Homo sapiens: one gene and its partners. The protein of the gene in region 2 interacts with the protein of the main gene of each other region in a pairwise test. Each region holds a gene or a part of one and is shown on either strand. Other genes may lie near its edges. The genes, in order: SCMH1, UBQLN1 and LHX5.

Region 1 (3,654 bases), on a different chromosome or scaffold from region 2:
CTGCAGGTTGTCTCCAGTCAAGGAACACCAGCCCACAGGGAAGATGTCTCGGGAGTCGAAGCGGCACCAGTAGTCAAAGGCCCCTCGCCACCCATCAAAAGTGACAAGCACCTCTGAGCCCCGAACCTCCCCAATAGTGGCTGGGCAAATGAAATGAGGGTTCTTCCTGTCCACAGCTTCTAGCTTCATTCCCATTTTGAAGAAGTTGTGGGAAGGCGATGGTGGCTCCTAGATGAGAAACAGAAACATACACACCTAGACACAAAGAGAGGCCATTATGCCAATAGACTACTATCTAATTTGGATGATTAAAAAGTGACTGCTACATGAGACTTATAATGGATATATAGCCTTTCTTTTAAATTAATTTTAAATTCAATATTTCAATATTTAAAGTATTACTTTATTAATCCTAACATTTTGACAACTTTGCTTCAGATTTTTTAAAAAGGAAATAAAAGGTTGCAGATAAAGTTGAATCTCCCTTTCTGCCCTTCCCATATTCCATTCCCCCTCTACCTACCACGGAGGTAACAGCTACCCATGCATGTTTTATATTTTACTATATACATACATACCCATTTGCCTGCTTTTAAATTTTATATAAATGGTATTATACTGTATATATCATTGTACAATTTGCTTTTTGTTTAGCAGTATGTTTTTGAAATCTGCCCATGTTGATAAATTTAGCTCTGATTCATTTTAACTTGTAATAGTATTTCATTGTATATATATATCGAAATTTATTCATTCTCCTTTGGACACTTAAAGATCTTTCCAATTGTTTACTATTTTAAAAGAGTTTTAACCACCATCCTTGCACTTCTTTGTATATGTGTAGGAAGGTTTCTTTAGGTTATACATCTAGGTGTAGAATTCCTGAATTCCTGGGTTATAGGGTAGATATATACATCTTCTGCTTTATCAAATATTTTTAACTTGTACTCCAAAGTGGTTGTAACATTGTATACTTTCACCGGAAGTGTAGAGAGTTCCTGGGTGCTAATTTGTAATGCAGTTACATAGATCAAGTTTCAAAAAATGTGTTGTACATTCTATTCTGTTCCCTTAATCTTACTATCTGATCCTGTACCAATAACATAGTCTTATTAAATGGATATCTGATAGGAAAAGTCCCCCTACTTTGTCATTCTTCAATATTGTTTTTGCTATTCATTCTCTGTCTTTCATATAAATTTCAATCAGTTTTTTCGAGTTCCATATATAAACCCTATTAGGATTTTGACTGGAATTACAACGAATTTATAGATAAATTTGGGTGGAAATAACCTTTATTATATACTATCAAGCCTTCCCATCCATAAACATGATAGTCTTTTCCACTTGTTAAGATTTCCTTTCTCTCTCTCTCTCTCTCTCTCTTTCTTTTTTGGAGAAAGGGTCTGGTTCTGTCACCCAGGCTGGAGTGCAGTGGTGTAATCCTGGCTCACTGCAACCTCTGCCTCCCAGGGTCAAGTGATCCTCCTACCTCAGCCTCCCAAGTAGCTGGGATTACAGGCACACACCACCACACTCTGCTAATTTTTGTTATTTTTTGTAGAGATGGGGTTTTACCATGTTGCCCAAGCTGGTCTCGAACTCCTGACCTCAAGTGATCCGTATGCCTTGGCCTCCCAAAAAGTGCTGGGATTACAGGCATGAGCCACCGTGCCTGGCCAAGATTTCTTTAATGCAGATTTCTTCAACATACATTTAAAAATTTCCTCTATAAATATCTCATGCTTTTTTACTAACTTTTTTTCTAGGCAAATTACAATTCCATTGCTATCATAAGTGGCATTTAAAAAATTTATTTTCAAATCATTTAAATTTAACTGTTGTTAAATGCAAATAAAGTGATTTTTAAAAATTGACCAACTTATTCGATACTGATTATTAGCTTATGCTGATTGACATACCAATTCTTGTGTGCTTGATTTATCAATTGTTAAGAGATAAGTCTTCAAATATTCCCTAGTGATTTGTGGATTTTCCAATTTTACCATGTAATTTTGTCAAATTTTGCTCTATTATACTTTGAGATTACATTTTCTAGGAGCATGTACATTTATGACTGTTTTATCTTCCTGGTGAACTGTACTTTATGATAATTAGATAGTGACCTCTTTAATGCATTTTATTTATTTATTTCTAGAATCAGGGTCTTGCTCTGTCACCCAGGCTGGTGTGCAATGGTGCAAACACAGCTCCCTGCAGCCTCAATCTCCTGGGCTTAAGCGATTCTTCCACCTCGGTCTCCCAAGTAGCTGCGACTACAGGCACGTGCCACCACTCTTAGCTAATTTTTAAATTTTTTCTAGAGACGGGGTCTTGCTACAGGTGGCCCAGGCTGGTCTCAAATTCCTGGACTCAGTGCTTTTAGCATCATTTAGACTTTTAGTATCAAAGTCTTGCGTGATTTCCGTATAGTTTATGCCAGCTTTATTTTGATAAAAGTTCATCTGGCACATCTTTCATATTCTTTTATTTTCTTTTTTAAAAATTAAAAAATTTGTTTTCCATCATTCCCACCCTCTGTAGATTTCTTTTACTTTCAACATTTTTGTCATTATGTTTAGTGTCTCTTATACATAGCATATAGCTAGATTTTTAAAAATCTGATCTATGTATGATTATAATGAGCTTAAGCTCATTTCTTGTGATAATTGATGTATCTGAATTTATTACAACTACCTTATTGTCTATGTTTCTATTTAATTTGAATTTCCAAAGTTCTTTTTTCTCCTTTTCAATCAACTAAGTTTTCTTCTATTTTCCCCCTCCACTGATCCGGAAGTTAAACATTCTACTTGGAGTCTTTTGGTAGATCCCTTTACTGCACAGCTGGCATAACAAAGTCTAAAACTCATCTTTATTTCTAGTCCCAAAGAATACAAGAACTACTCCTGAGTTACATAAGTGCTAGGTAATTCAGAAGCAGGATGCTCTTAGTGTTGAGACTTAACTAGCAGCATAGGCAAACCTAATTTAATACCCTTTACAGTAACTTTTACCCCATTAGAAAATTCAACTGATAGACTCACTGCCTCACTTCTTGAGAAGCAATAACAAATACAGGTTTTGGATCCCTGTTCTGCCGCTTACTAGCCACGTGATCTTGAGCAAGCTCCTAATTCAAAAGTATTTGTTTCCTTAACTATTAAATGGAAATAATAATTCTTAGTTCATAAAGTTAGCTGTGGGTATTACATGAGATAGTATATATAAAGTCCCAAACATATCGTAGGCAATAAAAAAAGTCTCCTTCTTTTCTCTGTTTAGAACATGAACTCTACAGAACTCCAAGATCTATAATAAGAATAGCGCCTTTAGATTTGTATTACATTTAACATATTCTACTAATAATACATTTTAACTTCTTAACAAGCCCGACAGGTAAACAGAGATTACTGGAAGCTGGGACCATATAATCTAATCTATGGGACCTTATAGTCTAATATATTCCTCTGGGGATAATTGCTGCTTCATAAGCTACTAAAAAATCCTTCTGAACTAATTTCTGAGAAGGCATCTTCAGGCCATAAGTAAATGTGGACATCAAAGTCTCAATATTTGACCTTAAGCAGCCTGGAGCTGGTGATATCTGAGGGATAGCCTACCTTGTGGAAAATCCTGATGGGAGCCATCTCT
Region 2 (3,654 bases):
TTCTCCATTTTACAGATGGGGAACCTGAAGTATGAAGACGCTAGATAACTTGCCCAAGATCACATGGGTTAGATTAGATTTGAACCCACGTAATCAGGCTCCTGATACTGCTTGGAGTCACTGTGCTCTATGGTTTCAAATGTTAAATGTGCCTACCATTTTACTCAGTGAGTGGCAGTACACAGTGAAAATGGGTGGAGGCATTACATCTTTTGTTGCCTTGGGCATGAAGGCTTACTTCTTTCATAAGGGTGGGCAATATTAAGTGCCGAATATGATTCTAATTAATTCTTTGCAGTCTTGGAGGAAAAGTTGGCTCAGTCCTTTTCACTTTATGGAATTTTTCAGCAGTAATTTTGACCATACGTAATTTTTGCCTTAAGTTGACTTCAGAAGCTAGCTCTTCATTAGACAAGATTTTACTGTAAATGCAGAATGTTTAAACTCATCAGTCCTCTTTTCCTGGTATATGTTGGGCATGTACTTTTAGAGATGTTTTAGTTTTAAAGTTCTTTCGTAGTTCAGTTGATACATAATATGTATAATCATTTGTACTTGGTGAAATTAAACACAGTGCATATTATATTTTAAAGCTTTAACTTTTGTTTAAGTATTTTTCCTTAATATGTCTTTTTTAAAAACAAACTTTCAGCTAGTATGTTCAACACACCAGGAATGCAGAGCTTGTTGCAACAAATAACTGAAAACCCACAACTGATGCAAAACATGTTGTCTGCCCCCTACATGAGAAGCATGATGCAGTCACTAAGCCAGAATCCTGACCTTGCTGCACAGGTGAGTTTGTAATTGTATTGAAAAAGACTGTGCAGTGTGAATTAAAATAACCTAATCTTGTAATTGTGATTTTGGCACATTTGTGTTGTGTATGATATCTTAATACACTAGAAAAATAAGTAAACTGTGTCTCCAATTTTTTAGACCGTGTGTTTCTTTGCAGTAAATTAATACTTCATATGTAATTAAAACAACTTTATCTCTGCCATTCATTGACTAGAAAGAAGTGCAGGTTTAGTTTGTTTCTACATATGTTGAGTTAGGAGACAAGTACAGAGTTCTGGAATGCCCACTCTTTTGAAGATAAACTACTTAATGAAATGTAAATCTTGAAAGCAATTAAGAGCAATGTTAATACATTTGAAATACTTTTATTTAGTAGATCACTCAGATTATAATAGTCATGCTCAGAATGGCAGTTGTAAAATAGCATTTATTAAAGACGGGAATTTGTCAGAACAATGTTCTCCTTCTTTCAACTATTGATTCCCCTGCTGAAAATCGTATACAGGTCCCTTATTAATGTATTCCTTTTTCTAATTTGTTTCTAAAGAGACCACAGCTAAGAAAATTGGGGATCTTAATGCTGGCTGAACACTCAGGATCACTTGGGAAGCTTTATAGACAGTACCGATGGTTGGGGCCTCATCCTTAGAGATTTTGAGATAATTGCGTCCGATAACCCTTTCTCCCTCAAGTTGCCTAGGTACTATCTAGGTTCCATACCACAGGGCTTGAAAAACCACGGAGAATGTGAAATAAACCTTGATAATCTGTAGTTTATATTTGCTGTTCGTTAAAAATGGCTTCTGTAGTGTGTCAGGAATTTGGAAGACTTTATAGTTAATCTCATCCCTTAAATTTTAAAAGCTTTAAGTCAAATGAATGGTTTTTATTTTCTAAATTCTAAAACTATATTGATTCAGGTATCTTTGTGTATAATTCTCAGTAATAACTTATGCCCTCACCAAATTTGTGGAATTGGAAATAACAAATTTTAAGAAGAATTTTTGTGTCTGTGATTCTGTATATTGGAGGTACATTTTATGGAAGATTGATTTATGCATATGAAACTTATCAGACTGAGTTGTTAGTATTAAATGCTTCAATTTACCATAATAAGCCATTTTAAGTGTGTATTTGGCTAATACTGAATGTGCATCTTGCTTTTAAAATTTGACTTTAACAAGCACATGCGTAGCAATTTTGTAATAATCTTACTTTAGTAAAGTGACTTGAGCACTCACATACTATTTTTTTACTCTAAAACAAAATGTTGCTAGTACTAGATTGGCATGTCTTTTATTACAGATAATTTAGAAACTTTTACAATGTTCTTGTTATCTGCAGATTAAAATTTGTGGTTTTTCTATTCTTTTGATTTTTAAATATTTAAAAAGACTCTTGAGTGTAAAAACTTGTGGTATAAGCACTCAGGTAAGTTATAAGAAGTATCTAATAAGATGATTATCTGTGAAAGGATACGTTTAAGATGACATGCTTTTTTAAGATGAAATGAAGTGAATTCCAAAAGATATGTGTGATAACCTCGTTAATATGTTGATGATAAGTATTTGGAACCAATAAAGAAGCAGGTTTGTTGACCTTAAGCCTGTATGAGTTTACTTACTGTGAACTTACTGGTCACTTTGAAATAAATACTGTATGTTCCTGAAAGGTTGTCTGACATCTGCTTTTGTTATTGTATTGAAATTAACTAAAAGATCACTTTGCAAGAATTGGGGCGAATTTTCTCTACCAGCATTTACATTGCTCTTAAATACGGTTAACTTCTTGAGGGCAAGGATCATTTCCTCCCCAGACTTTGGATAGATAAATAGGCTATCAGTAAATCCTTGTTAGTTGACTTTTTACTCCGCCTGGGGAAAATGATATAAAATGTGTCTTTTGAAGCTACAAGAATTTATTAGCTCTGGTTATGCTCCTTGTGTATTTTAATCTTATTTTCAGGTATATGACATCATACTAATAATGATCCTGATTTTTAAATTCTTAACGTTTATTTGAAGTTTAGGAGATGCCACTTTTCTCATCTCTGGTAGTAGTGAGGTGAAATCCAGATGCTAATCTTGGTGTTCTCAAATGGATTTACATCTTTTAGGTCTTAAATCATTTTAATACTTTTCCCAGAGGACTGTTGGTGCTAGGCCTGACTGATTTTCACCTAGCAGCTCCATTTCTCTGGCAAGTTGGTTGCTGTTTTGCGGTGTTATTTTTTTGGACCTAATATTAGCTGTTTTGTAGTAGGCAGGTAGATGTAGTGGTCCTTTTCAGATCTAGATTTTCTCTGTGCCTGCCACTTGTGTGTTGAGGTTTCTAAGCAAGCCATGTTACATAGTTCATGTATTGATGTTTATGTTTATTCTGCCAGTGTAGTAGAAAATATATCTTCATGAATGCCAGTTACTCCCATTTTTCTTTCAATGGCATATATTCACGTTTGTTCAAGGAAAAGCCTAAGAAAATGATTGCTTTTATTTTTTAGGATATTGCATGTCATTATCATAACCACCATTCTCATTGAGAGAGAATATGCCTCATTTTTTTGTTTTTGTTCTTCTGGAGATCCCTCTTGTGGACAGTATCTTCCCTTTTCCTTTTTTTATTTATGTTCTACCTTCCTCCCTTTTAAGTGCCAGCTGAGGCACTTGGGGGAAGATAGAATAAAACAAGGTACATTACTTGTTTCAGATATTTCCAGTTAAAATTGTTTGAACACTTGCCCCATAGATGATGCTGAATAATCCCCTATTTGCTGGAAATCCTCAGCTTCAAGAACAAATGAGACAACAGCTCCCAACTTTCCTCCAACAAGTGAGTAAGACAAGATGTTAGCTA
Region 3 (3,654 bases), on a different chromosome or scaffold from region 2:
CCCCCGCGCCGTGCGCGCCGCCTCCGCCCATATGGCGGCCGGGCCGGAGGTAATTGGAACAAACGCCGTCTGAAAAGGGCACAAAAGCCGCAGCTGGGGCTTTGTCCGCGCTCCCACGGGGAGCCGCCGGCCCCGCCGCCCGGCCCCTTTCTCGCCCGCTGCCGGTCGCCACCGCCGGGATCTCCCAGCGCGGATTAGGCGGGGCTGCCTCGCTGGGGGCTGGGGAGTCTTCCCCACCATTACGGGGAACGAGGGGCCCCCAGTATCCAGCTCCCCACCTCATCCAGCGCGCAGGGAGAGGAGGCGGTGGGATAGGTCGGGGCGGGGGCGAAGTGGTCCTCGGGGAAACCTTGGTTAATTATCCAGGCGGGGAAAAATTCCGGGCCGGTACCGCCCCCACTACCTCGCTGCTCCGGGCCCAGATTTTGTAGGGAAAGAGGCAAATTTAGGTGGAGAGAGTCGGTGAGTGGAGACTCCGGAAGACACGCCCACCATCCGGGCTCTCCAGGGTTGGGGGTCTGTCCGGGGTTGGGGGTCTGTCCAGGGTTGGGGGGCTGTCCAGGGTTGGGCGGCTGGGGCGCTCCAGCCTGAGCCCTGCCACTGCCTGGGGTCTCTGCCCTGAAAAGCACAGCCTGGCATTTTGCCCACAATTTCTAGGGGCCCCGGTCCGGTCTCAAGGTCTAATCCCCCCTCAGGCTTCCGGATGTGCTGAGGTTAGTGATGGGGTTATCTTCCCTTCCCTTCTGCGTCTACCTGGGTGCCTAGCTCCTGCCTTGCTAACACTGCCACTGAACCCACTTTCTAAGAGAAATTGCCTCTTCCTAACCTGCGTTACAACTCAGAAGTGCAGATGCCTCTCAGACATAGACAGTCCTGGGGTCTCTCCAAATTCAGAAGCTTCAGAATAGAAGAGGAGAGGTGCTTTCTTGAGCCCTCAGCCCTGGGAAGAACAGGACAGTGAGCTTGGTGAGCTCAAGCAATGCGGCTCAGGGTAAGGAGCTGAAAAAATCGGATAGGGGGAGTTGGGATGGCTCACCAATCCAGTGTGAGGGAAGTGAGAGGAGGAAAAGCTGAGGTGGCAAGGGGACAGCTCACCCCAGGCCCAAGCCTGGTACCACCATCTGAAGCCCTTTGTAAACTGGGGCTCCTCGCTCTCTGCAGCCCCAAAGACGGTGGAAATCTGGGGTTGGCCCAACACTTGTGCCCCCAGTCTGTAGGAACCCCAGGGGTCTCGGGGCTGGAGGGTGGACTACAGTCCTGCCCAGAGCAACTGCCGGCATTTGGGCTAACACTGCCAGATGCTGTGCGCACACACCCCGCCACATGGAACAGGAGTTGCTGCCTTCGATGCTAGTGAGCAGGCGGCTTGGAATGAATCCAGACCCCCATCCCCTCCCCTCACACTACCCTCCAGCGCTCGGAATCCACCTCATGCCAAGTACACCAGGCACAGGGCGGCAGGAAGGCTGTGCGTCTGTCCGTGGGGGCCGCATGCATGTGGATTTGCCAGTACTGGCCTCAGTGTGACTGGTGGGAGTGTGCGCGTCTGTGGAGTTGTGTCTCCGTGAGTGTACCTGTGTGTGAGAGGGTGGAATTTACCTATACGTGATCGTGCGATCGTGTCTAGACGTGTGTCCCTGGAGTCTCTGAACGCAAGTGTGAGTGCACCTTGTGCCCTGCGTGGGTGAATGTGTCACTGTATCTCGTGTGTGCTTCTGTGTGCATCACTGTATGGGTGAGACCATGTATCTGATTTTGTGTCCAGGACATGTGGGTGAGTGTACATGTGTCTGTGATCGTGTGTCCAGCGAGTGGGCGATGTTCTGGAGCGGCGGAAAGCGTGCTGGCCGGGACCCTTCGCCCTCAGCTCCCGGAATAGGACAGGTGCGGAACAGCGAATCCCGGGGCGCCCCTTACCTCCGTAGTAGGTGTACGGGGTGGACCCCAACATCTCAGACTCGTCCAAGCGGCCGCCCAGCGGACGCATGCGCCGCGGACTCCGGAAGAAGGCGTGCCTCCGGGCGCCTAGGGCGCTCAGCTGTTTCATCCGGCGTTCTTTGGACCGTCGGTTCTGAAACCACACCTGGGACAGAGGAGGGGGCTGTGAACCCAGGATCAGGAGTGTCCTCTCCCCCCCTCTTCTCCCTTCCCTGACTGGGCTGCCCCTGCTGGGTCCTTGCGCCTCTTCCGCACCAGGACTCCCCCGAGGCGGGGCCGGGCCGGATTAGGCCGGGAGGGGTGGAGAGAGGCTTCGGCGAACCAGCCAAGGGTGAAGGATTTCGCGGACCCGTGGGGCGACTCATAAAGACTTGGGCTTCCTGGTCCCCGGCTCGCCCGCGGCCTGACGGCTCTATAAAGGCCTCCCTCCCGGCACGGCTCTCGCCTCGGCCCCTCGGCTCCGGAGCCAGCCTCTGGCCGTTTGTCTGCCCGCGCTTCGGCGCAGGGAGGGAGGGGGCATCGCCTGTTTCTCTGCTCGAAAGGTGGAGGTAAAGAGGGATCCCGGACCCCAGAGAGGCTTACAACCTTCCATAAGCAAGGCGGGGGGCGGAATTCAGAGAGGTAAAGTGACCCGCCCCCAAATCGCAATACCAGGAGGACAGCAGGGCTAGATGGAATCTTTCGGTTCACAGTCCCCGACCTCGGGCAAGTGCCCCACTCGGGCGCACGGTCTGCTCCCAGACCAGAACCAGGCGCGCTCGTAGCCAAGGAAGCTTGGCGGGAGACTCCTCCGAGGCTCCCGGCTCCCAGGCCAGCGGGGCTAAGGAGCTGTGCCCGCCCCGGGCCGCACCTGGATGACGCGCATGTTGAGGCCGGTCTCCTGCGCCAGCTGCTCGCGGATGTGGCGCGTGGGCTTGGGCGTGGCGGCGAAGGCAGCCTTGAGCGTCTCCAGCTGCTTGGCCTTGATGGTGGTGCGGGGGCCGCGCCGCTTGGTGCCCGAGTTCTGCTCCTCGTTCTCGTTGTTGGCCGTCTCCTTGTCCGACGAGGTCGAGTTGTCCGTCTCTTTGGGGTCGTCCTGCAGTGCGTCCTGGAGGTCCGGGGACAAACTGCGGTCCGTACAGGATGACACTGCGGGCGGACGGATCGGGAAGGGGACAGCGGCGTCAGCGACGGCCAGACGCCTCTTCAGTCCAGTGGCGGGTTCCCGCCGGCCCAAGCTACGGCCTGCCCAGGCTACGGCCAGCCCCGCTGGATTCCCTCCCAAACCTGCGACAGCCCCTCCCCCAGGGACCCGGTGCCCGCCCACTCTCTCCAGGCGGGGCTGGGCCTTTGGAGGGGCGCTCTTAAGCCCTCTCCGCGCGTCTCAGCTAGTACCTGGGTAAGGGTAGGGGGACGCGTACCCTCTGGAGAACTCCCACTTTCAAGGAGAGGGGACAAGGAGGGCACAGATTCCCTTGGGGCTTGGATCTTCCTCTCTCTTCCCTCCTCTCTCCAGACCTCAATTAATGTCCTTCCAGTGCATCAAGAAATTACCTGGAGCTCAAGTGACACATAAGGGGGAATTGTGCGCTTCCAAATTAGGGGAGGAGGGCAACTTGGAAAAGGCTCCTGAATTGGAGGAGGGTGAGGCAGAGCTGGCAGGTCTCAGATCCCCTGTAAAACCTGCTCCAAAGCCACTTCTCTTCTCTAGCCTCTAACCCCCTTGCCTTGCCCTAG

What was found.
Region 1: the proteins of UBQLN1 (region 2) and SCMH1 interact in binary tests that used the Homo sapiens proteins (3 or more experiments, as listed by UniProt).
Region 3: the proteins of UBQLN1 (region 2) and LHX5 interact in binary tests that used the Homo sapiens proteins (3 or more experiments, as listed by UniProt).

What each region holds. Positions count from the first base shown.
Region 1 is NC_000001.11:41,113,299-41,116,952, forward strand, and holds part of SCMH1 (polycomb protein SCMH1), read right to left. Parts: coding exon 3,624-3,654; intron 256-3,623; exon of another isoform or gene 229-255; coding exon 1-228. UniProt on the Homo sapiens protein: Associates with Polycomb group (PcG) multiprotein complexes; the complex class is required to maintain the transcriptionally repressive state of some genes.
Region 2 is NC_000009.12:83,666,326-83,669,979, reverse strand, and holds part of UBQLN1 (ubiquilin-1), read left to right. Parts: intron 1-652; coding exon 653-795; intron 796-1,348; coding exon of another isoform or gene 1,349-1,450; exon of another isoform or gene 1,451-2,472; intron 2,473-3,546; coding exon 3,547-3,630; intron 3,631-3,654. UniProt on the Homo sapiens protein: Plays an important role in the regulation of different protein degradation mechanisms and pathways including ubiquitin-proteasome system (UPS), autophagy and endoplasmic reticulum-associated protein degradation (ERAD) pathway.
Region 3 is NC_000012.12:113,465,339-113,468,992, forward strand, and holds part of LHX5 (LIM/homeobox protein Lhx5), read right to left. Parts: intron 3,067-3,654; coding exon 2,789-3,066; intron 2,084-2,788; coding exon 1,918-2,083; intron 1-1,917. UniProt on the Homo sapiens protein: Plays an essential role in the regulation of neuronal differentiation and migration during development of the central nervous system.